Linked DNA regions of Homo sapiens: region 1 is linked to region 2. Evidence: fine-mapped expression QTL. A gene starts in region 2. The other region holds a variant in brackets. All regions are shown on one strand. Distances are from middle to middle.

Region 1 (12,109 bases), 77 kb before region 2:
TAGCAATTTGGGAGCCCGAGGTGGGTGGATCACTAGAGGTCAAGAGTTTGAGACCAGCCTGGCCAACATGGTGAAACCCCGTCTCTACTAAGAATACAAAAATTAGCCGAGCTTGGTGGCGGGCACCTGTAATCCCAGCTGCACAGGAGGCTGAGACAGGAGAATTGCTTGAACCCGGGAGGCGAAGGTTGAAGTGAGCTGAGATCACGCCACTGCACTCCAGCCTGGGCGACAGAGCAAGACTCCATCTCGAAAAAAGAAAAAAAAATTGTTATATTTTATCCTGCATTATATCCATTTGACTTGTGAGTCTTCTCCACACCTGCTAGAACTGCCCAACCCTGACTGTGCTTGCCTGTGTACCTATTAGCTCCCTACAACATCTCATCGTGGGAGGGGAAACAGGGTTTGAAAGACTTCTTACATTGTTAAATTTTAACTTTAAAAATGTTACTCAGTTTGGATAAGCTTTCCCTGCCCTCCCTGGCAAAATGTTGACCATTTAAAGGAGGAAGAATGTTCCAAACTTTTCCTTAAAGCAATCATTGTAGTGTTTCTGCAGCAGCACAACCGCTGAATTCCTGAAGTCTTAATTTTCCAAAGATTGAAGGGTGTTTTGTTTTGTTGTGAGATGGAGTTTTGCTCTTGTTGCCCAGGCTGGAGTGCAATGCTCGATCTTGGCAATGCTCGATCTTGGCTCACTGCAACCTCCGCCGCCCAGGTTCAAGCAATTCTCCTGCCTCAACCTCCTGAGTAGCTGGGATTACAGGCATGCACCACCACACCCAGCTAATTTTTGTATTTTTAGTACAGACAGGGTTTCACCATGTTGGTCAGACTGGTCTGGAACTCCTGACCTCAGGTGATCCACCCTTCTCGGCCTCCCAAAGTGCTGGGATTATAGGCGTGAGCCACCGCGCCCAGCCAAGATTGAAGTTATTTGAATTTTTACCTGAAAGAAAACATCCTCTTGGGTTAGCTTCCTGTTCCCCACTACAGAAAGAGGAAGAGAAGAGAAGGCTACATGAAAGAGCTGATAGCATCCAGAGAAGGAAGAACAAGAGAGAATTACATCACTGAATAATGACAATGAGCATGATGTGCTATACTGCATGCCAGGTTCTGTTCCAAGTGTTTTACATTTACTAACTCATTAACCCTATCAACAACATAAGATAAGTACTATTATTTTTATTCCCGTCATCTTAAAGAGGGGACACATAGGCCGGGCGCGGTGACTCACGCCTCATCCCAGCACTTTGGGAGGCCGAGGCGGGCGGATCACAAGGTCAGGAGATCCAGACCACCCTGGCTAATACGGTGAAAGCCCATCTCTACTAAAAATACAAAAAATTAGCCGGGCGTGGTGGCGGGCGCCTGTGGTCCCAGCTACTCTGGAGGCTGAGGCAGGAGAATGGTGTGAACCCGGGAGGCGGAGCTTGCAGTGAGCCGAGGTCACGCCACTGCACTCCAGCCTGGGCGACAGAGCCAGACTCCGTCTCAAAAAAAAAAAAAAAAAAGCGGGGGGACACAGACACATAGACACACCAGAGTTCAGTGAAAATAACTTGTTCAAGTTCACATAGCCAGGAAGTGGTCTGAGACCATCCGATGCTGGTCAGTGAGACAGGTATGAGTTCTTCCTTTCAAGAAATGTTCAAATTTAAAGAGGCTTTAGCCTCTTGTGATTCCAGAACATTAAGGAGGGATTATGCACAGATTTATGGAGTCTTGTCACTGATTTCTCATGGGTGCTTAACCTAAGATCAAAGGTTCTCTGATGGTTCTGTGCATACACTCCAAGGGGTCAGTGAACTTGGGTGGAAAATAAAAATACATTTTTTAAGTTACTTCTAGCAGTTCTAATCACAATTTACATTTCTCTGCCTTTAAAAATTTAGGTGACAAACCATAATAGTATTATCACTCCCCATGACATTGTCATCAATAGAAATCATTGATTTTCATGTCACATTTCAGTTGTAACAAGTATCTCAGAATATCATATATTTTTATCACTCTCAAAATCATGGTAGTTATTATACCTGTGGGCAAATCTTGTTATTTAATACATTAATAATGATGTCCATATATTACAATATTATGCTTTTAAAAGTATATGTTGATGTCTGTATTTCCATATAATTGGTTACTTAAAGGAGAATTTTATATAATTGGCTATATAATTGGTTACTTAAAGGAGAACTTCTCTTAAAGGAGAATGTCATCCTACATTTTATATTTAGCAACAAAAGAATGAGAAGAAGGCTGAATGTCTGTACCCAGCCTTCCATATAATTTGTAGCCAATTACATGGAAATACAGATATCAACATATATTTTTAAAAGCATGATATCATAACATATGAACTTCATTATTAATGTATTTTATTTATTTTATTTTAGGCATTTACAAATATTATTCTGAGGAAGGTTCCATAGGCTTCATTACACAGGCAAAGGGATCTATACTATAAAAATAGTTAAAAACCTTTGCCCTAGAGCAGGGTTAGCAAATTATGTCCTGCTCGCCAAATCCGGCTACTTGTTTTTGTATGACCCATGAGCTAAGAATGGATTTTACATTTTTAAATGGTTGGAAAAATTTTTTTAAAGAATATTTCGTGACAATGTGAAAATGCATGAAATCCAAATTTCAGCGTCCATACTCACTAGAACACAGCCATACTCATTTGTCTGCATAGCGTTTGTGGCTGCTTTTGCACTGCAACAGACTTTTTTTTTTTTTTTTTTTCTTGAGACGGAGTCTCACCCTGTCGCCCAGGCTGGAGTGCAGTGGCGCAATCTCGGCTCACTGCAACCTCTGCCTCCCGGATTCAAGCAATTCTTCTGCCTCAGCCTCTTGAGTAGCTGGGACTACAGGCATGCGCCACCATGCCCGGCTAATTTTTGTATTTTTAGTAGACACGGGGTTTCGCCATATTGGCCAGGCTGGTCTCAAACTCCTGACCTCGTGATCCGCCCACCGTGGCCTCCCAAAGTGCTGGGATTACAGGTGTGAGCCACTGTTCCCGGCCACTGCTACAGATTTGAAAGGTGGGACAGAGATGGAATGTCCTGCAATGCCTAAAATATTTACTAAATGGGCTTTTAGTAGTTTGTCAACCCTGAATTAGAAGAGAGTAAGGATGCTGAAGACAAGGAAGCTGTCTCATATTTCTTTGCATCACTTCAGTGCCTAGTTCAGAGCCATGGAAAGAATAGCTCATCTATGCATCTCTACTGGTTGAAAGACTACTAACCCCTTTGCGGTAACTACCTGCCACTTTGGAAATCTTGGTAAATTCTACCTCCCCCTTAATGATTTCTCTAAGCTTCCTATCCAAGGACCCACACTCTTTTGAGTAAAGGAGAACTTCATCCTACATTTCATATTTACCAACAAGAAAATGAGAAGGCTGAATGTCTCTAGCTCAGCTTTAATGTTAAAAGAAATTACAAAGTAATGAAGCAACCTCCCACTATAATGCTGTGGCACAATATGAATTATTATGCAATAGAAAAGTGAGCAAAAAGAGACTGCCCCGGAGCACGTTTCTTCAATGTGTGCTGATCAAGGAAACCTTGGTTCTGTGGATGCTCCCGAGAAGTTAAAGGGTCAGAGAGCCCCAGCTGAAGCGCAGCCCAACCAGGAACACCTCGCAATAAGGAATGTTATTCTGAAAGCCAAGGAAATAACCAGACTCTCATTTCCCCCACACAAATCAAAACACCTCCAAACATGATCACCCTCAAAAACATTAGTTTGAAAGGCAGTAATATGGTATAGACAAAAAGAATTAGGCTTGCTGACAGAATATCCAGGTTAAAACCCCAATTTCTCCCCCACAGGTTTTCTGCCTTAGGACAACTCCAACTCTCTATAATGAGGGAGAGAAATAACGTTTACCTCTGAGGGCTGCTGAGAGGGTTAAATAATATGAGATCTGTAAATTACAACACACTGTACACACTATACAGGTAGCATACAAGGTGGTAATGAGTGAGAACATTTGATGTAGTGTGGAGCTGCAGGCGAGTTGGTATGTTCTCTGCCTGTACAAGTCTGTTTATTCATTCATTCATTCACTCACTCACTCATATTTCTACCACATCCCAGGAATGATTGAAGATGGCTTAAATGTATTCACTTTTTTTGTAAACAAAAAATGATTCAAAGTGAATTAAGAAAACAGGACGAAAGGAGAGGGTAGTAGGTGAGATAGAATGATGCTAGGAATTAGGTAGAAACCACTGCTCCTAGACTTTGGATTTTCTGAACCAGTAACATTTCTCCAAACACTAGGAATTGACAAGGGGGCGCTATAATGTTCTTTTGCCAAGTAAAGACATTATAAAACAAGCACAAAGCAATGGATCTCACCATATGGTTCTCACCGTAATTTCATAAAAGAAATACTTATTTGTTAGTACCTATAAGGTAGGAAGAACATGATCTCAGAAGACAGAGAAGTTCAGTTTGCTTTTATGAAGTTACACATTGTTATTTATAGTTTGTCTTGGATAGATGAAAAGTGGCACAAACTGGCAATGGCTTGGAAAGGGCATTTGTGAATCACTGACTTAGCACACAAAATGTCCTGGATGCCTGCCAAGCAGTGAACCCCAAACGGTCAGTGCAAGGATGGAGATAAAATCAGTTGCTCAAGGAAAGAAAAGTTTTTCTTAGTGGAGTCCTAGGAGAAACTTTTTCTTGGATTCTCTTTAAAAGGACACTGTGTAAGGTATTAATAAACACCCTCAATAATATCTTCAGACTGAATAGAGTATTTTTATAAAATGCATTCCCCCACTATGGACCAATGGAATAATATCAAAGTGAAACTCAGTAAAAAAAA[A/T]TTTTCTGGATACACTCCAGGCAAATGGATCTTCACTTGGGTTGATCTGATAAGGAACTGATTTTAGGGGATCCAGATTTTAGAGGACCAGTTGAACTGCATTATCTTTCATGCTGGTCTCCAAGGTCATATTTTTCTCAACCAAACTTCTAACAAACTTTGACTGCTGATGAGTTCTCAGTTGTTCCTGATTCTAAAGTCCTTCTATAGTATATCTGAAATTAGAGTCTATGTTGATGGTTAAAGAAGGAGTCACATGCTTCAACATTTAGCTCACCTTGGGGGGAACTATTGACATACCTCTTAGGACAGTTGAGAAATCTAATGAGCTGTCAACAAGAGGAAAACCTAGAAATTCTAATCTAATGGATAGTACTTCTATAGATAGTACTTCTAATCTAATAGATAGTATTTCTATTAGATTGGAATTTCTAGGCAAGAGGAAAACATAGAAATTCTAATCTAATAGATAGTACTTCTATTAGATTCTATTCTAATCTAATAGATAGTACTTCTATTAGATTCTATTCTAATCTAATAGATAGTACTTCTATTAGATTCTATTCTAATCTAATAGATAGTACTTCTATTAGATTCTATTCTAATCTAATAGATAGTACTTCTATTAGATTCTATTCTAATCTAATAGATAGTACTTCTATTAGATTCTATTCTAATCTAATAGATAGTACTTCTATTAGATTCTATTCTAATCTAATAGATAGTACTTCTATTAGATTCTATTCTAATCTAATAGATAGTACTTCTATTAGATTCTATTCTAATCTAATAGATAGTACTTCTATTAGATTCTATTCTAATCTAATAGATAGTACTTCTATTAGATTCTATTCTAATCTAATAGATAGTACTTCTATAGATAGTACTTCTAATCTAATAGATAGTATTTCTATTAGATTGGAATTTCTAGGCAAGAGGAAAACATAGAAATTCTAATCTAATAGATAGCGCTTCTATTAGATTCTATTCTAATCTAATAGTACTTCTATTAGATTCTATTCTAATCTAATAGATAGTACTTCTATAGATAGTACTTCTAATCTAATAGTATTTCTATTAGATTAGAATTTCTAAGCAAGAGGAAAACCTAGAAATTCTAATCTAATAGATAGTACTTCTATTAGATTAGAATTTCTAGGTTTTCCTCTCTTTCTATATAAAGACATGTATTGAACTCAAAAATGTTATATATTACAAATTATTTTTTTCATTCATTCATTCACTCAGCACATATTCATTGGATGCCTACTATGTGTTGGGCTCCATGCTGTGAGTTGAAGATACAGCAGCAAATAAAACAGACAAAATTCTCTGCTCCCATGGAAGGCGGAGGGGGAAACAAATGACAAATAAGATATACAAGTAACCAATATAGTACATTAGAAGGTAAATGCTATGGAGAAATATAAAGCAGGAAAAGGGATAAGGTGTGTGTGTGTGTGTGTGTGTGTGTGTGTGTGTGTGTGTAGGCGTAGCTGTGGTTTCCATTTTCAAAAACTTGGTCAGCAAGGCCTCATGGAGAAGGTGACATTTAAACAAAGTGAAGTAAGTGAGGGGCCAATGTGAATATCTGAGGGAAGAGTACACTTAGCAAAGGGAAGAGTAAATGCAAAGGCCCTGGGGCAGGAGTGTGCCTGGCAGCTCTGCATAACTGCAAGGCCAGTGTGGCTGGAGCAGAGTGAGTCAAGGCTGGTAGCAGGTGATAAAGGACAGAGGTAGTGGTGTGGCAGTTGAGAAAGAAGATCCTGTAGGACCCTCTAAACCATTATAAGGACTTTGACTTTTACTCCAGGGAATCTGGAAAGCCATGGGAGGATTCCAAGCCAAGCAGTGACATGGCCCAAATGATATTTTAGCAGATTCAAGTGGCTGCTATGTTAAGAATAGACTGCAGGGTGGTGAGGGCCGAATCAGGGAAACCAGTTAGCAGCTCCTGCATTCTAGGTGAGATTACACATTAGGTACCACCAATGGCATTTGGGGTAAAATGAAGTGGGGTTGCTGCAGGGTAGAGAGCTTAGTCAGCTTACCCAGTCTGAGTAAAATCATCGACATCCATAACTAGCTCTGACAATTTACAAAAAAATTCTCATTGACCTTAGACAAATTTAGATATCATAATTTAAAAATGACGTGCCATCTAACATTTGCCAAACTTTGTACTTGGTGCCCAGACCCACGGAACCAGCTCGGGTGGAAAGTGAGAACCCCAAGTAAAGGCTGGACATCGTCAGAGAGCTGCGTGGAGCAGTTGCTTGTGTAGAGCAATGACAAATAGGAGAGGTTGCTGGAAAAGGAAGTGGAACCAGTGCCCAGAGTTTTATCTGCTTTGTCCATAAAAGGAGATTAGATACTTCACAGAAGCCTACTCTGGGGCTTAAGTATACAGTCCACCCATTCTCTCACTGCATTGATTTACCGTTGTCTCTTGCATTGTAAGCGTGAGTTCTTCGTGCAGTAAAATTTTTGTTTATTTCAATTGCTGAAATTCTAAAATCTATGTTGGCTATCTGCTCATTTTAATTTTTTGCATCATATTTTATTAATCTTATGCCTTTCGGAAAGCAATTTCAGGGATCTAGTATTGCAGACAATTGGATGTAATATAGTCTCTGACTTTGATTTTCATTTTCTTGTCATGAAGAATATTTCTTATAGTTAATTAAGATATTTGGGAACTGGGCGCAGTGGCTCACGTCTGTAATCCCAGCGCTCTGGGAGGCCGATGTGGGTGGATTGCTTGAGTTTAGGAGTTTGAGACCAGTCTAGGCAACACAGCGAAATCCTGTGTCTACAAAACACTTAAAAATTAGCTGGGTGTGGTGGTGTGCGCCTGTAGTCCCAGCTACTCAGAACACTGAGCAGAGGATAGCTTGAGCCCAAGAGGTCGAGGCTGCAGTGAGCCACGAAGGCACCACGGCACCCCAGCGTGGGCAACAGAGCCAGACCCTGTCTCAGAAAACAAAACCAAAGGAAAGAAAGAAAGAATTAGGAAGAAAGCTAGGAAGGAAGGAAGGAAAAAGAAAGAGGAAGACAAAGAAAGAGAAAGAGAAAGAGAAAAAGAAAGAAAGAAAAGAAAGAAAACAAGATATTTGGGCATAACTTAACAGACTCTATGTTATTATTATTATTATTTAGAGACAGTTTCTCACTCCAACACCCAGATTGGAGTGTGGTGGTGTCATCACAGCTTGCTGCAGCCTCAACCTCCAGGGCTCAAACCATCCTCCCACCTCAGCCTCCTGGGTAGCTTGAACTACAGGTGTGCAACACCACGCCCAGCTAAGTTTTTTTTTTTTGTATTTTTTTATAGAGGTTTTGTCATGTTGCCTAGGCTCATCTCCAACTCCTGGGCTCAAGTGATCAGCCCACCTCAACCTCCCAAAGTGCTGGGATTATAGGATAAGCCACCACCCCAGCCTTCACAAACTCTTTAGATCTAACTGTTATGCCTTGGATTGACAGGGTTGGCAAATTACCTGGCGCTGGTGTTGCAATGCTGCCTCCTCCCATGCTTGAGGCAGGTGCTGCTTCTCAATCTTGCACCCTTTCCCACTGAGCATGGACTTGCCTTACAAGCCTCGTCCACTCAGGGCTCCAGAAAGTCACTATCAATCAATGGGAACAAGCATACCCAGTGAACCACCTTACTATCCTAGGGTTCTAGCCAGTATAGTCTTATTTTTTGCCTTTATTGATGCCATTTTTTGGAAATGGACCCACTACCTTATTATGCACATTTTGAATTTAAGTAAAAATATATAATAGCAATAGTTTGGATTCCTAACTAATATGAGCATTTAAATACCTAACTGATGGATTTAATGATGATTAATTTTGTTAAAGGTCTTCTTTCTACATCAACGAAAGATTTTAATTCTAGATGTATATATGGTTCCCATGGTTCCCTTAACTTTTTAAAAGTAAAGTGGCCTCTGTTTTCTTTCAGGCTCTGAGCTTTTCATGTGATTTAATAGCATCGATGGTTCACAATTTTCTAGAGCTCTGCAGCCATCTTAAAGCTGATATTAATGTTCCTGGCTTTTGGCAATGAATAACTAATTATGCTGCAAATAGCTAAATTAGGAAAGAGTCTATGGGAGAAGCCCTAAAAGAATGATCCATGGCAGGATTTTGGGAAGAGCTGGAGGTGCGGAAGTTGTCCAGACAGGAAAAGTGCAGCAGCCATGATGGTCGGTGCCTTCGCATCAGGGTTTTCACTCGCTGAGCCAATGGGTCCATAGCTGATGTCAGCTAAATGCCCATGGTGGTGAAGAGCTCCACACTCCTTGTGTTCCTGGGTCATACTCCGTCAGAAGAATCAGAAGCTGAAGCAGAATCATTGGAGCATTTGGCCCTATTCTCTGCTTGCTTTTGTTATCGGTGACTTAAAGAGGGACCAACAGAACACCTTCCTGGGCCTTGAGGGAGCTCTCTGTTGCCATCACCAAGGCCCCATTGGCCCACGCTTCTACCATGGTGTGTACCAGCTCTCCTGGGAGTCACGTGGCCACATATCAAGGGGAAGGAGCTACTTCCCTCCTAGAGCAATGGCACCTGCAGGTAAGAGCTGAGTGGTGAGCTCTTACTTCTGCACTCTGCACTGGGCCAGTATGGATCTCCCCAACCACATTTGACAGTCTTCATCCTGCCATACCAGGTATCACCATCTGCTTCAAAGTCCCCTTTACTATTTGTTCTACAACTGCTAGAAAACCTAAGGCCAAATAGATTGATAGCAAGCTGTCCCCTAATTTCTAAGATAATGCTGTATAGATTTTAAAAAGAATTTCAACAATCCTTATTGCATACTATAGAGGGAGTTCTGTTTCCCAGAAGTTGAAAGTATGGTAAAATCCCTCCTCATCATTCTTAGGGTGCTAGCTGTCCTGGGAGCTGGAAAAGTGATGCAGAAATTGCTGCTTCTCACAAGGCCATGACCTCTCCCTAACCTAGGTAAGGGTCAAGGCAAATGGTCATTTGCCACTAAATTATAAATCTCTGAGCTGGAACTTGCTGGATGTCAATGCTTTGAGAGATATGAGGCCTGGGCCTGCATCTGGGCCCCACCCATCGACTTCCTACATCTGTATTCTGGTTAGGCACCCCGCCTGGCTGCCTACCTGTACTTAAGCCTTCCTGTACTCTGGGACTAGGGGTAAGGGTGAAGAGAGGGTAGAGGAGGTGAGCAAGTGAGGGAAAGAAAAGGTAGTGGAGTGGCAGGATGGGAGGGGGCTCTAGCCAGGATGTTCTGTAAGCAGAGCCCAGCAAATTATCTCTGTTCCCCTTGGCCTGACCCCTTTTCCCAGGAGCAGGGCCTGGCAAGCAGGGTTGTTAGGTAACAGTTTCAACCATCCTCTGGTGGGTTACATACAAAAAGCAGTTTACAGTGTCAATGAAATGAATGCTAGTGTACCTTTCTCGACCTCCTAGCACTCTGGAGGTAAATGTGTGCAGCAGGTCACTGCAGACAGGGAGAGAGAGTTCTACAACAGAGTTGAAGGTAAAAACATGAAATAATTTGGGATATGACCCAAGTGATAACAATATGGTTTAACTGGTTTACCTGGTCTTGTAACCTAAAGAATAATTTCCATAACCCAGTTAACATTCTACTCATTACAGTATTTATGACTGTATATTTCTTAAAAAAGAGTTGAGGCTATGCACACAAATAACTACTCAATGACAAAGAATGAGCTGAGGGCTACACAGTGGCCAGAGAGCAAGTATATTATAAAGGGCTTTGGATCTTGGAGATTCCAGCACCCACTAACCCTGTAGGCACTAACCTCTTACTTTTCTCCTTAGTCAAATGGATTTAACAATCTTTGCCCTGCAGAGTTTTTGAGCAAATTAGCAACAATATATAAGGACAGTATCTAGCACAATACCCCAAATCGACTAACTCCTCCGTAAAGAATAGCTACCACTATTGTGAGAGTTTTAAGTCAAGCTGTGAATAAAACTCTTGGGTCCACTTAAAAATACCTCCCCTGGATGTAAGCATCCAGGGAAATCAGGGAATGCCATAAGACAGCCCTAATCTAAAAGCCTACAAGAAGCTCAGTGGGCTTCAAGGAAGACACTGCTCTTGGTACGATGAGGAAACCTGGCCCTCTATTTGCCTCCTGGGCCACAGTAATATTGATAATAGCTGCTGCTTTTAGTTGAGGACCATGTACGTCTGTGTCACTGCACTGGCCACTTTACTTACACTTTCCTGCTTTGTCCTCACAAAGATCCTGTAAGGTGTGTATTGGTCCCATTTAGCAGGTAAGACAATGAAGACCAGAGGTCCAGCACCTTGCCTAAACCACACCTGCTGGGATTTGGATTCAAGTCCAACCGTACAGCTCAAACGCTCAGCCACTTCCCTAAAGTCCACCCCCAGCTACATTAAGTAAAAAAATCCAGAAAGATGCCACCTGGGGGTCTGGAACTGCCTCCTCCGAGCACCCGGCTCTCCCCTCCCTGCGGACTCTTCTCTGGAGAGGATGTGATGCTTCTTACTTTTCTCAGATCCCTCTCCCCACCCTGCGAGTGACGTTGCGCCTCTGTGCCTGGTGGGATAGGGATCTGGGAGCTTCGCCTGTTTTTTGCACACTGCCATCCCCTAGTCTTAGGGAGCGAGCTCTGTCCCGCTTTTCACATCTCCGCGTCTTTCCTTGCACTCTACATCACCGCTGGGAATGTCCCCAGACCTGATCGGGGCATGCACACTGGGGTGTGCGTGTGCGTGTGGTGTGTGTTCCTGCGCGTGTGCCGGGCTCGCGGGGCAGGAAAAAGCGCCTAATCCAGGCTCTGCGTCACTCCCGCAATTGGTTAGAAATGGAGTTTCCTGGTGTTTAATCCCGGGAGGGCACTTCGCCTTCGTTGTTTCCCAGAGTCCCTGATTTTCCTGCCTCGCATGCCAGCGCCCCATAGGGCATCCGTGCCTCAGTTCACCTCTTGCCATCCTCCAAGGACGGGGAGAAGGGGTAAGGCGGGGGAGAGCAAGGTGGCTTGGTCGCCCCCGGCCCCCGCCCCCCATGTTGTGTGCAGTTTCCACCACGTCTGTTTCGGAGGGAGAAGAGGAGGGTGCAGATGAGGCGAGGCGCCTTCGGGAGCGCGGAGAGCGGGCAGGCAGTGCCACCTGCTGAGAGCCACTCAGGCCGAGCAAGCGGCGGGCAGTGCCACCTGCTATAAATAGGCCGCCAAGGACAGGGTGTGCGACTGTACATCCCGCCA
Region 2 (11,781 bases):
GCTTGAGTCTAGGAGTTTGAGACCAGCCTGGGCAACATAGTGAGACCTTGTCTCTATTTAAAAAATAAAAAATAAATATCTTCCCCCAAAATACATATAATCTGCTTCAAATAAACTTTTTTTTTTTTTTTGAAACAACGTCTCTGTCACTCAGGCTGGAGTACCGGTGTCGTGATCTAGGCTTACTGCAACATCTGCCTCCCAGGTTCAAGCCATCCTCCCACCTCAGCCTTCTGAGTAGCTGGAATGACAACCGGCTAATTTTTGTATTTTTTGTAGAGATGGGAGCGGGGGTTCTCCCTGTGTTGCCCAGGCTGGTCTCGAACTCCTGGACTTCAAGCGATCACCCATCTCAGCCTCCCAAAGTGTTGAGACTACAGGCATGAGCCACCACACCCGGCTTAATGAACTTCTAATACACTATGCCATTTAAAAATTTGTTTCATTCGTTGTCTGACTCTCTTTTCACTAGGATGTAAGTTTCCCGAGGGCAGGGGTTTTGGTTTGTTTTGCTCACAGATGTGTTGCCACAGACTAGACAGTACCTGGCCCCCAGTAGGTGCTCAATACATATTGAATGTGAAGTGAATAAACTTCCAGCAGACTATCCTCATTGTGCTTTAACACATTTAAAATGACCAAATGGCTTTTCCCTGTACTTCCATTCTGTGTCTTTTCCCCTTGACCTCATGTGATATGCTCAGGGACGCCAACTAATGTTAGTATTAACTTAAGAAAAGTGGAGTGTAGCCGGGCACAGTGGCTCACACCTCTAATCCCAGCACTTTGGGAGACCGAGATGGGCAGATCACTTGAGGTCAGGAGTTCAAGACCAGCCTGGCCAACACAGTGAAACCCCATGTCTACTAAAAATTAGCCAGGTGTGGTGGAGCACACCTGTAGTCCCAGTTACTTGGGAGGCTGAGGCACGAGAATCACTTGAACCCAGGAGGTGGAAGATGAAGTGAGCAGAGATCGCGCCACCGCACTCCAGCCTGGGCAACAGAGCAAGACTCCGTCTCAAAAGAAAAAAAAAAAAAAGAAGGGAGTGTAGAAATGAATTTCCCCCAAAGAAGCCACTGATGCATGCCACGGTGAAACTTAAAGAATTACTCCTATCCGGTCTTTGGGATTATCTGCACCATGGCCTCCCTCCCCTTACAGGAAGGATCAAGCTGACCACATAAACATTTAGACTCCCTACGTGAGATGGGAGAACATAAGCCCCTCATGAGTTTGTATAATACTCATGGCCACAGTTACACAATGTGGCAGACGTATCTCTTCCTTTCCAAAAGAAGGAAAGAGACAAATGTATGATACCTGATATGACACATGTTTTCATTCTTCACAATCATTAAAGTAATAAATAACACTACTTTTTAGAGACAAGGAATTTATCTGTTGACAGGAATATGTATTGCTGGGCACAGTGGCTCATGCCTGTAATCCTAACACTTTGGGAAGCCAAGGCAGGAGGATATCTTGAGCCCAGGAGTTCAAGACCAGCCTGAGCAACACAGCAGGACCCCTCTCTACAAAACATAAAAAGATTACCTGGGCATGGGGGTGCGTGCCTGTAGTCCTAGGTACTCAGGAGGCTGAGGCAGGAGGATTGCCTGAGCCTAAGAGTTCGAGGCTACAGTGAGCTATGATCACAGCCTCAGCAACAGAGCAAGGTCCTATCTCTTAAAATAATAAAAATAAAAACAAATAAATAAATAATATAGAAAGAGAAGAGAGTTGAGATTCCAAAACAGTCTTTCTGACTCCAAACTCCATTTTTATCCTACACCACTTTTTCATAAAAGTTCAGAACAGATTGTTTGATGTTTTTCTTATTGCTCATTATTACTTTTTAAAAGGTCAATTCTGACATGTGATTTACATTTCCTGACAAACTACATATCATTTTCCTCCCTCCCTTCTGTCTTTCCTTCCTTTTATTCTTCCATTTATAATGCAACAGATGATAGTTTTTCATGGTGTCCTGTAGGTAGTGTATTTTATTTTAAAATACCAGATAAAATTATCAGCAGCCACTTGTGGAAAGCTTCACTGGAAAATATTACTTCAACCATACTTATATGTTTTTTAAAATGCTATTTTTGTTGATCTCTGCTTAGAACAACAGAAACACAGATGGCTACAGTTACTGGATTTGCTGCCAGTTTTTATGCCCCTTTTCTCATATACGTTTATGGCGACCAAGTTTACTTTCAAAAACATATGCTAAGAATAGTAACACATTTTTCAGATTTGAAGTTGTCTAGGAAAAAAGTATGCTTCATATTAAGAAAGAGTCTGTAAGATCAACAAAGCAGATTCATCTCCTAGAAAACCCATTCTCTGAGCAGGCCATTTTCATCTCTAACCAATAAACACCAGATTCCTTAGCTTGGCAATCAAGAACCTTGACCATATCTGGTCCCAGATGATTCTTCATATTTTTTATTTTTGTTCCAAGATGGTGTACTCTATTTTCCAGCAAAATGGGACAGTTAATTTTTCCTCGTAGCCATGCTTTCCTCTGTTTTGTTCATTGTTGTTTCTTTTGCCTGGGGAGATTTCCTCTTCTTTTACTTAAGCATTCCGTCTCTCCTAGCTCCTTCTCTTACTTAAGCATTCCATCTCTCCTAGCTCAAATGCCACCTCCTCCAGAAAGTGTTCCTGGATTAGATTTGCTTTCACACCTCTAGACCTCCTTTATTTGTCCCTTCTTTAGGACACATATATGACATCTTTTACTTTAATTATTTCTGCCCCAATTCAGAGTACTATTAGAAGGCTGTTAATAAAAAATGAATGTGTCGGAAGAGTTGAAAGAAGTTGTTTAATAATAATTCCTGCTAATGGTATAATGAGACAGGATTACAGACAGGTGGCCTGCAAACTTTATTGTAAAAGTTGCCTACCATAGTGTTTGAAGAAAAACAATTCAATTGGAATGCCTGCAGATTGGCACACACACTCTACCCCACCAGTCTCCCCGTTCCCCATTGTCTTCCACTGGCACATCATATATTTACATTCCCTCACTGACTCTGGGTGGCACTTGAATTTACAAGCTCCATATAGAGGTTACATCAATCAGTTGATATACCAGGTCCAAGTCATGGCTCTGTCACTTTCTAGCTAGCTGTGTCAGGTTAAGAGCAAGACTTCTAATGATACCTTTGAATGGCCCTTTGTATTTGAGGTGGCCTTATGCAAATAAACAGGCACAGTTGACCCTTGAACAATGTGAGGGTTAGGGGCGCCAATCACCTGCATAGTCGAAAATCCACCTATAACCTTTGACTCCCAAAAAGCTTAACCGATAGTCTTCCGTTGACCTCACCAATAACACAGTCGACTAACATATATTTCGTATGTTTTATGCACTATATCCTGTATTCTCACAATAAAGTAAGCTGAAGAAAATGTTATTAAGAAAAATCATAAGGAAGAGAACATATTGCATTATTCATTAAGTAGAAATAGATCATCATACAGGTCTTCACCCTCATTGTCTTCACGTTGAATAGGCTGAGGAGGAGGAGGAAGAGGAGGGGTTGGTCTTGCAGTCTCAGAGGTGGCAGCCGCAGAAGAAAATCTGAGAACAAGTGGATCCATGCGACTCAATCCTGTATTGTTCAAGACTCAACTGTATATTTTTGCATATGGGCTCAAATACGTACGCACATATGTCACTGGGTCAAAGATTCATAGAATGAATTAGACAACAAGAATATTTATCATTGAATTGAAATGGCTCACTGCAAAAGTGCCCTCAACTTATCTCTAGGCCTTAGAAACAGAAGTGACCCTTTGCTGCTGTGAATCAATAGCCTGGACTAGATTGGGGTTGGGTTGGCAAAGGTATATAGTCATTGCCATAGTCCAGTATTCCTGCCCAAGCAAGCACCATTAGTAGTCACGTTGCTCAGAGAGGGCCTCTCGGCTCTCCCCACCACTGCATGCTGGATTGTCTGCCACCAGTAGATCAGAGTTGGCAAAAGGGATAACTCGGGATGAAACATTTGAGCATTTTGCAGTTTAGAGAAACTTCAGGGGTGCTGCTTTAGTAAAAAATGGAAGACTTGCATTTATTAAAGGTTAGTAAGAAGTGAAATAATGTATGCAAAAGTACATTATAAATTAGAAAATGCAATAACGGCAGAAACTATTTATTTATTGGTTGCTCTGCCCTTTACCTAAGTGGTTTTTGACCATTTAACAATGTGTAAGAGTTGGGTTTTACCTCCATTTTATGGATGTGGAAATAGGGCTTGGATGTTAGCTAACTTGCCCAAATCTTACAGCTAACAGAAAGTGGTACTCCCGAGATTCCTACCCAGGTTTGTCTGACCTCAGGCCTGTGCTCTTTATATGAGTTCATGCTAACTCTCAGATGATGTGCTAGGCACAAAAATTAGATATTACACCAATTTCCACTATAGTTAACATTCTATCTAAATATAAAGTGGGACCACGGTCTTAGATGAATGTGGCTGTTGAGAGCGGCAATAATCCAGAATGGCTACTCTGATCTACGTTGATAAGGAAATTGGAGAACCAGGCACCCGTGTGGCTGCCAAGGATGTGCTGAAGCTGGAGTCTAGACCTTCAATCAAAGCATTAGATGGGATATCTCAAGTTTTAACACGACGTTTTGGCAAAACATACGATGCTCCATCAGCCTTACCTAAAGCTACCAGAAAGGCTTTGGGCACTGTCAACAGAGCTACAGAAAAGTCAGTAAAGACCAATGGACCCAGAAAACAAAAACAGCCAAGCTTTTCTGCCAAAAAGATGACCGAGAAGACTGTTAAAACAAAAAGTTCTGTTCCTGCCTCAGATGACGCCTATCCAGAAATAGAAAAATTCTTTCCCTTCAATCTTCTAGACTTTGAGAGTTTTGACCTGCCTGAAGAGCGCCAGATTGCACACCTCCCCTTGAGTGGAGTGCCTCTCATGATCCTTGATGAGGAGGGAGAGCTTGAAAAGCTGTTTCAGCTGGGCCCCCCTTCACCTGTGAAAATGCCCTCTCCACCATGGGAATGCAATCTGTTTGCAGTCTCCTTCAAGCATTCTGTCGACCCTGGATGTTGAATTGCCAGCTGTTTGCTATGACATAGATATTTAAATTTCTTAGTGCTTTGGAGTTTGTGTGTACTTGTATTAATAAAGCATTATTTGTTTAACAACATAATAAATACATAAATATAAAGTGGGTCATATTCCTCTTTATGTGCATCTGTCTCAGCTGTCCCTTGTTTCTATATTTCTTCCATACTACAGCCCGTACTCTTTGGGGATATGTCAACATGATTTACTTCTGTAGAGAAACAGGAGACAGGAAATAGCAAAGGATAAAGGAGAAAAGGCCAGGGCCAGGCCAAGAACTTCTACATCTTTTCTTCCCAGCCTAGTGTGAACCAGATGAAAGCCTTAAGGAGGTCCTAGCAGCAAAGGGAGATAATTAAAAGAATGAGAATTTTGTGGAATGCTAAAAAAAAATAGGGAACATATTTGCAGCTAGGACTAACACTGATTATCTTAAAATGTCTATATGGCTAAATAATGTTCATGAAATCCCGTATCTTATTCTGCTAATGTCTTACAACTTAAAGCACTTTTATGTCCATGCCTTGAATTCTGTACAAAGCTTTGATAGAGTCACAGATGTCTGGTGTCAATCCAGATCACCTGAGAGGCTTCAGGGTTTCCTCTCTGGTTCCTGAATTCCAAGACTTAGTGAGTTTCCTAGGCCAGGAGCTGCTATTCATTATACATGTTAGTGGTTTTGCTCTTTCTACTGAAAGTGAGTGGTGGTTATGTCTCTGAACATGTTATTCCACAAAAAGCCAACTAGATGTGGCTATTTAAGAACCATCAAAGGCCATGACAGGCCAAAGTTTCCAAATCCCTCTTCAATCAAAGGATGCTGTCAGAACTGACCTCCAAAAAAGATGCAAGGTCTCAGTCCTAGGCTGTCATACTGGTCCTTAGAGAAGAGTTACAATTTTGTGATCTGCTCCACTCCATTTTGATTTTTGCTTCCATGCTATTTTAAAACTGGAGAAGGTTTAAGTTTAAAAATTCAAGACAAATCATAAAATATTTGAGAATTTACTTGTACATTGCCTGTCTTCCCAAATAAACTGTGGGCCCCATGAGGGCAGGGACCATCTCTGTTTTGTTCACTATGGTGTCCAAGTACTTCCCCCATATCTTGGAGCTGATTCTGTGGTGGGCTGCTCCAAGTAATCTTTATCTTGGGCCAGTAGCCACGCAGGTCAAGGATAAGTTTCCATTAGGTGTGGGCATAAGCTCCTACCCAGCCATTGTCCTCTTCACCAGAAGAACTAAATTTCATCTGTAAAGGAAGACATCACATTCTGTAAATGGTAGGGCCTCATTCTCCTGTAAGATTCATATTTCTGCATTTTGGATTCAAGAACCATAGGTGTATCCCATGGCAAGACAGGAAGTATTACTGGAGTCAGACTCCCTGGGTCTTAACCCTGCTTCCTCTGTTTAATGGATATGCAACCTTGGGCAAGCCGGTAACATCTAAAATTTTACTCTTATAGCTGTTGATAGAGACACTAAACGTTTAAATTTCTAAATGTTTACTGCCATATTTATGTATGGTTATTAGCATAGTAAGGATCTAAATGATATCAGAGTAGAAACTCAATAAATATTTGTTAGATGGATGAATAATTAACCTCTCAGACTTCAGTTTCATCACCTGTAAATAAAGAGGTTTAGCTATATGGTATCTTTGCAGTTCTAATATCCTGTGGACTTAGTTATGTTAGTAGTTATGATATTTTTTATTCTTGGTAATTTTTTCAGGATTACTATAAGGATAATAAGAAGTCAAATTCTAAACTGAAATAAGTCAAGGGAATTGAATAAAAACTTGGATAAAAAAAGAAAGTGTTTTAAAAATCACCCTAAGTCCAATGATCAGCTGGCCTTTGATTTAAAGTGTGTCTGTGGTCAGCCCACGGAAATAGTATACAGCTTCTCTGAAGCTCTTTAACATCTTCATTACAGTCAGTTTAAGTACTTCTTTGGCAATAAACATCAACTTTTTTTCAGATGTCTCTTTGCATATGATGGCCTTGGCATGAGACATGAAACCATTAAGAAAATACAAGCCAGGTCCTCTGCTACAGTCCATAAAAATCATTTAGTTGAAGCTATGCATATTTACTTATTAGCTTACACTCATTTTTAAACTGACTCACAAAAAGTACAGTATTAGGCCATTCTTGCATCGCTATAAAGAAATACCTGAGACTGGGTAATTTATAAAGAAAAGAGGTTTAATTGGCTCACAGTTCTGCAGGCTGTACAGGAGGCATGGCAGTGGCATCTGCTCAGCTTCTGGGGAGGCCTCACAAAGCTTCCAGTCATGGCGGAAGGCCAAGGAGGGAGCAGGCCTCTCACATGGCAGAGCAAGAGCAAGAAAGAGTTGAGGTGGGGGGTGAGGGAGGGGGGAGGTCCAGGTGGGCGGACCACTGGAGGCCAGGAGTTCGAAACCAGCCTGGCCAACATGGTAAAACCCCATCTCTACTAAAAATACAAAAATTAGCCGGGCATGGTGGCACATGCCTGTAACCCCAGCTACTCACTGAGGAGGCTGAGGCACAAGAATCGCTTCAGCCCAGGAGGTGAAGGTTGCGGTGAGCCGAGATCACGCCACTGCACTCCAGCTTGGGTGACACAGTGAGATTCCGTGTCAAAAAAATACCCATTTATGTACTTACGTACAAAATATCTGAAACTGCTAAGACTGGGTAGTAATTACATGGGTGTCTCTTATATTATGCTATTTAAATGTTTTAAAAACATTTAATAATTTTTAAGATCCTAAGAAACAAGAATACTGTAATAAAAAAATCCAATATCGGACTCTACTCCCTTGTAGATTAGGAATGATATCCCTGCTCTTTTTCCCCCCAATGGCTCATTTGTACTTGGCATTTGGTGCCTGCTTAAAACACCAGGGTGACTACAGGGTCCCTGATGTTGGTTAGGGGCCCTCTCTGTAGCTTTCATAGCACCCTCTCTTTTCCTTCTCACTGCATTTATCACCCAGTTGTGCCATTTCCTGTTTCCTTGCTGTATGGGCCTGCTGGACCATAAGACGTTCCTGCAGGGGCAGGTGGCTTGCTTACTATAGCATCCCTGAGGACTGGAATGCAATAGATATTGAGTGGCTGAATGAATTACTGCAATGGTGACTGCAATGGCTTAAGTTCAGTGCTCTGCACACACATGGGCCAGGGTTGGATATGCGAAATTACCACTTGATGAAATTAGTTAAAGCAGCATTTGTTGGCACAGAGAGGCCGTGTGCCCCTTTCTTGGAGTCCCCTAGGCTTCAGTGCATGCACCACAGTCTCACAGTTGGAAAGGAGGGTCGGGGCGCTGTACTTCATGTAAGGTGATTCTAAACCTCGTGCTAGATCCACTGACACATCCAACTCGAGACTCAGGATCCAACTGGACACTCAGGTTCCCATTAGGCTGTGGCGAGGACCAAGCCCGCTGCCACTGAATTTCCTAGGCACTGAGGTCAGGGTTTTCCTGTCCACTAGCCTGACCAGTTTTTCACAGAAAGGACCAATGTGCCTGCCTTCCCGAGATCCGGCAGCACAGCTCCTGCTTTGTCCTGGGTTCAGATGGAGTTTGGCCTGTTGGTCCCAGCGTAGCCTGGATGGGGACAAGGGGCAGCCTACTGCGGGTCTCACTTTCTTATTAGCCCCTGGCCTGGCTGAACCCTTGAGAAGGGCCCTGCTGCCTCAGACCCAACAAGAATTTGCTTCCTTTCTCTCTTCCTTCCTTCCTACCTCATTCGTTCATTTGTTCTTTAGAATCTGCTGCCATTTCATGTCTATTTGTATCTCATCTAGCTAGCATCAGCTCTGTCCCCAGCCTCATGAAAAAGGCCAAGCTCCTTCCCTGACAGAGCCTGCTATTGGCAGGAAGCTGCCAGAGCATGGTGTCTGTCTAGAGAACCTCTCTTGGCCATGCCAGCTCCCTGAAATCTTAGAGCATGAAGCCCTGTGTTTGTAGCAGTTAGGACCTGCTTGGAGGGATGCTGACAGGTGGTCTACGCAGACACTGCTCCACTGTGCCTAGGTGAGGCCTTTGGTGAATTATTTTACTTTCCTGAACCTCAGTTTCCTCATCTGCAAAACAGAATAAGTAATACCTTGCAGCAGGGTTTTAACATAATTAGGGGCTGTGAAGTAAAGTGGTTAAGTTGGCAGAGTGCCTGGGCCTGATTCTGGTTTTCTCCTTTCCCACCTGAGTGCTTCAGTTTCCCCATCCAAAAATAGGTACTCATACTCTCGACCTCATGCGCTGTAAATGCTTTGAACCATGCCTGGTGCATGGTGGATGCTGCCTGAAGGTTTGCTGGTTTTAGCAGTGTCTGGCAGATAGGAAGCACTCAATACACATTATGTTTTATTACTATTACAATTATTCTTACCATCTAGGGTTGGGAGATAGATAATATATGAAAACATCTGGCATGCAGTAAGTACTCAGCGGATATTGTTTTCATCCTTCCTGACCCTTGATCTTGGAGCAGGGGTACCTTGAAGTGGAGGGAGGTGATCCCTGCACTGAGTTGGCATTCTTTTTTATACTTGTGTTGTCCCTGAGAACAAGAACTCTAGATATTTGGAAAAGTTCCAGGAGCATCGGGGCTCTTGTGATATTATGACCTAGAGATCGGTGAGCAGATATGTTTAGTTCTACCTTGACCCTGAGCGAAGGCTGCCAGGTGCAAACCTGTCATGGACATTTATTTATTTATTTATTTATTTTATTTATTTATCTGAGATGGAGTCTCACTCTGTCACCAAGGCTGGAGTACAGTGGCACAATTTCGGCTCACTACAACCTCCACCTCCCAGATTCAAGCGATTCTCCTGCCTCAGCCTCCCGAGTAGCTGGTATTACAGGTGCCACCATGCCCAGCTAATTTTTGTATTTTTAGTAGAGATGGGCTTTTACCATGTTGGCCAGGCTGGTCTTGAACTCCTGACCTCGAGTGATTCACCTACTTCACCCTCTGAAAGTGCTGGGATTACAGGTGTGAGCCATCGCCCCTGGCCATGGGCATTTAATTTAGCGTATATTTCACAACATGCCTGAGGGAAGCTTGGAAGGGACCTTGGAGATCGTGGGCCTAATACCCACAATTTACAAGGTGGAAACAGGTTCAGAGAATGTGACATGAACTGTCTGAGGTCACATAGCTGGTTGCCAGCAGGTATAGGCTAGCAGCAAGCACCTGGACAGCCTGGGCTGCCTCACACAGAGAAAGACTCCACAAATCCATGTGCAAATTGATTGACCCACTTTAGATGACTCCTGACCCTCATCTGAAAGCTGAATTTATCTTCACCTCACCCAGAGCAAAACTTCTGTCCTGTTTGGAAAATTCCAGGTTAGAAGAGCAATGACTCAGACATCACTACTTAGAAGCGTTTAAAAAACTGAGTGGGATCCCCACACAAATGGAAAAGAGAAGCTAAACTATTTCCTTCTTATATTTTCTCAGCCCTTACATCTCCTATCAAGGCCAATGGACATTTTCAATTATGTACCTTCTCTAGCTACGCATAGAGACTAAGATGCAGATGGTGGTTTATTTTATAATCTATGAGTTTCTTTGCTAAGTATACAGACACCTTTTATCTTTTTTTAATTATTATACTTTAAGTTCTAGGATACATGTACGAAACGTGCAGGTTTGATACATAGGGTTTGCTGCACCCATCAACTCATCATTTACATTAGCTATTTCTCCTAATGCTATCCCTCCTCCAGCCCCCTACCCCCCAACAGGCCCCGGTGTGTGATGTTCCCTGCCCTGGAGACACCTTTTATCTAAAGGTTTTCAGAGGGGCATTTGCCTAGGAATTCGGCACTTGGGTCTTATATTCTGGAAGATGAGCTTGCTCAGTGCACCTGAAGATTACACTGAGTTTTACCAGGCACATTCTTCTTGTTGACATGCAAGTACCTGTGGCTTGGTGGACTTTTTGTAGGAATCTTAAGTTACAACAAAGGAAAAAATTCAAATTGTTTTGTGCATTTCTGCAGAGGTTTGTGGCACCATTTTTTTTTCCAGGTGCTTGCTGTGCAATTCGAATCCAAAATTCAGTGCTGAAGCACATAAATTTAGGCTTTGAAAAGAGTGAGGACATTCACAAAGAGCTTCATTTGTGTTTAAAACTTGGCAATTTTAAAGGAATTTTATTAAGATAAAAAAGAGGGCCGGGCACAGTGGCTCACATCTGTAATCCCTGCACTTTGGGAGGGCGAGGCGGGTGGATCACCTGGGGTCAGGAGTTCAAGACCAGCCTGGGCAACATGGTGAAACCCCGTCTCTACTAAAAATACAAAAATTAGCTGGGCGCAGTGGCGTGTGCCTGTAATCCCAGTTACTTGGGAGGCTGAGGCAGGAGAATCGCTTGAGCCTGGGAGGCGGAGGTTGCAGTGAGCCGAGACTGCGCCATTGCACTCCAGCCTGGGTGACAGAGTGAGACTCTGTCTCAAAAAAAAAAAAAAGATAAAAAAGAGAAATTATTTTAGAAGTGGGAAATTATCCTAAATGAAGGTAAACTAAACCACCTTATAAAAAACAGAAAATTTTGATTTACTATAGAAGAAGTGGAAAGAGGAAGTTTGGGTCAGATTTTTATTCACTAATAGATTTGATCAGGAAATAGGAGTTGATTCTTTTCAGTCTTATTTTTG

The links.
Region 1: its variant is fine-mapped to the expression of PTTG2 in whole blood (TOPMed, PIP 0.96).

The regions. Positions count from the first base shown.
Region 1 is chr4:37,878,527-37,890,635 of GRCh38, forward strand. No RefSeq gene overlaps it. Among named protein-coding and RNA genes, the nearest start is that of TBC1D1, 6.5 kb to the right of the region's middle. RefSeq lists an enhancer at 2,762-3,262 and a silencer at 12,077-12,109. The variant A/T (reference allele first, on the strand shown) is at 4,859.
Region 2 is chr4:37,955,917-37,967,697 of GRCh38, forward strand. It overlaps PTTG2 (pituitary tumor-transforming 2), which reads left to right and starts at 4,482. Exons shown (of 1, transcript NM_006607.3): 1 at 4,482-5,212. The coding sequence starts at 4,519. The coding sequence ends at 5,094. The region is part of intron 2 of TBC1D1 (TBC1 domain family member 1); the gene reads left to right.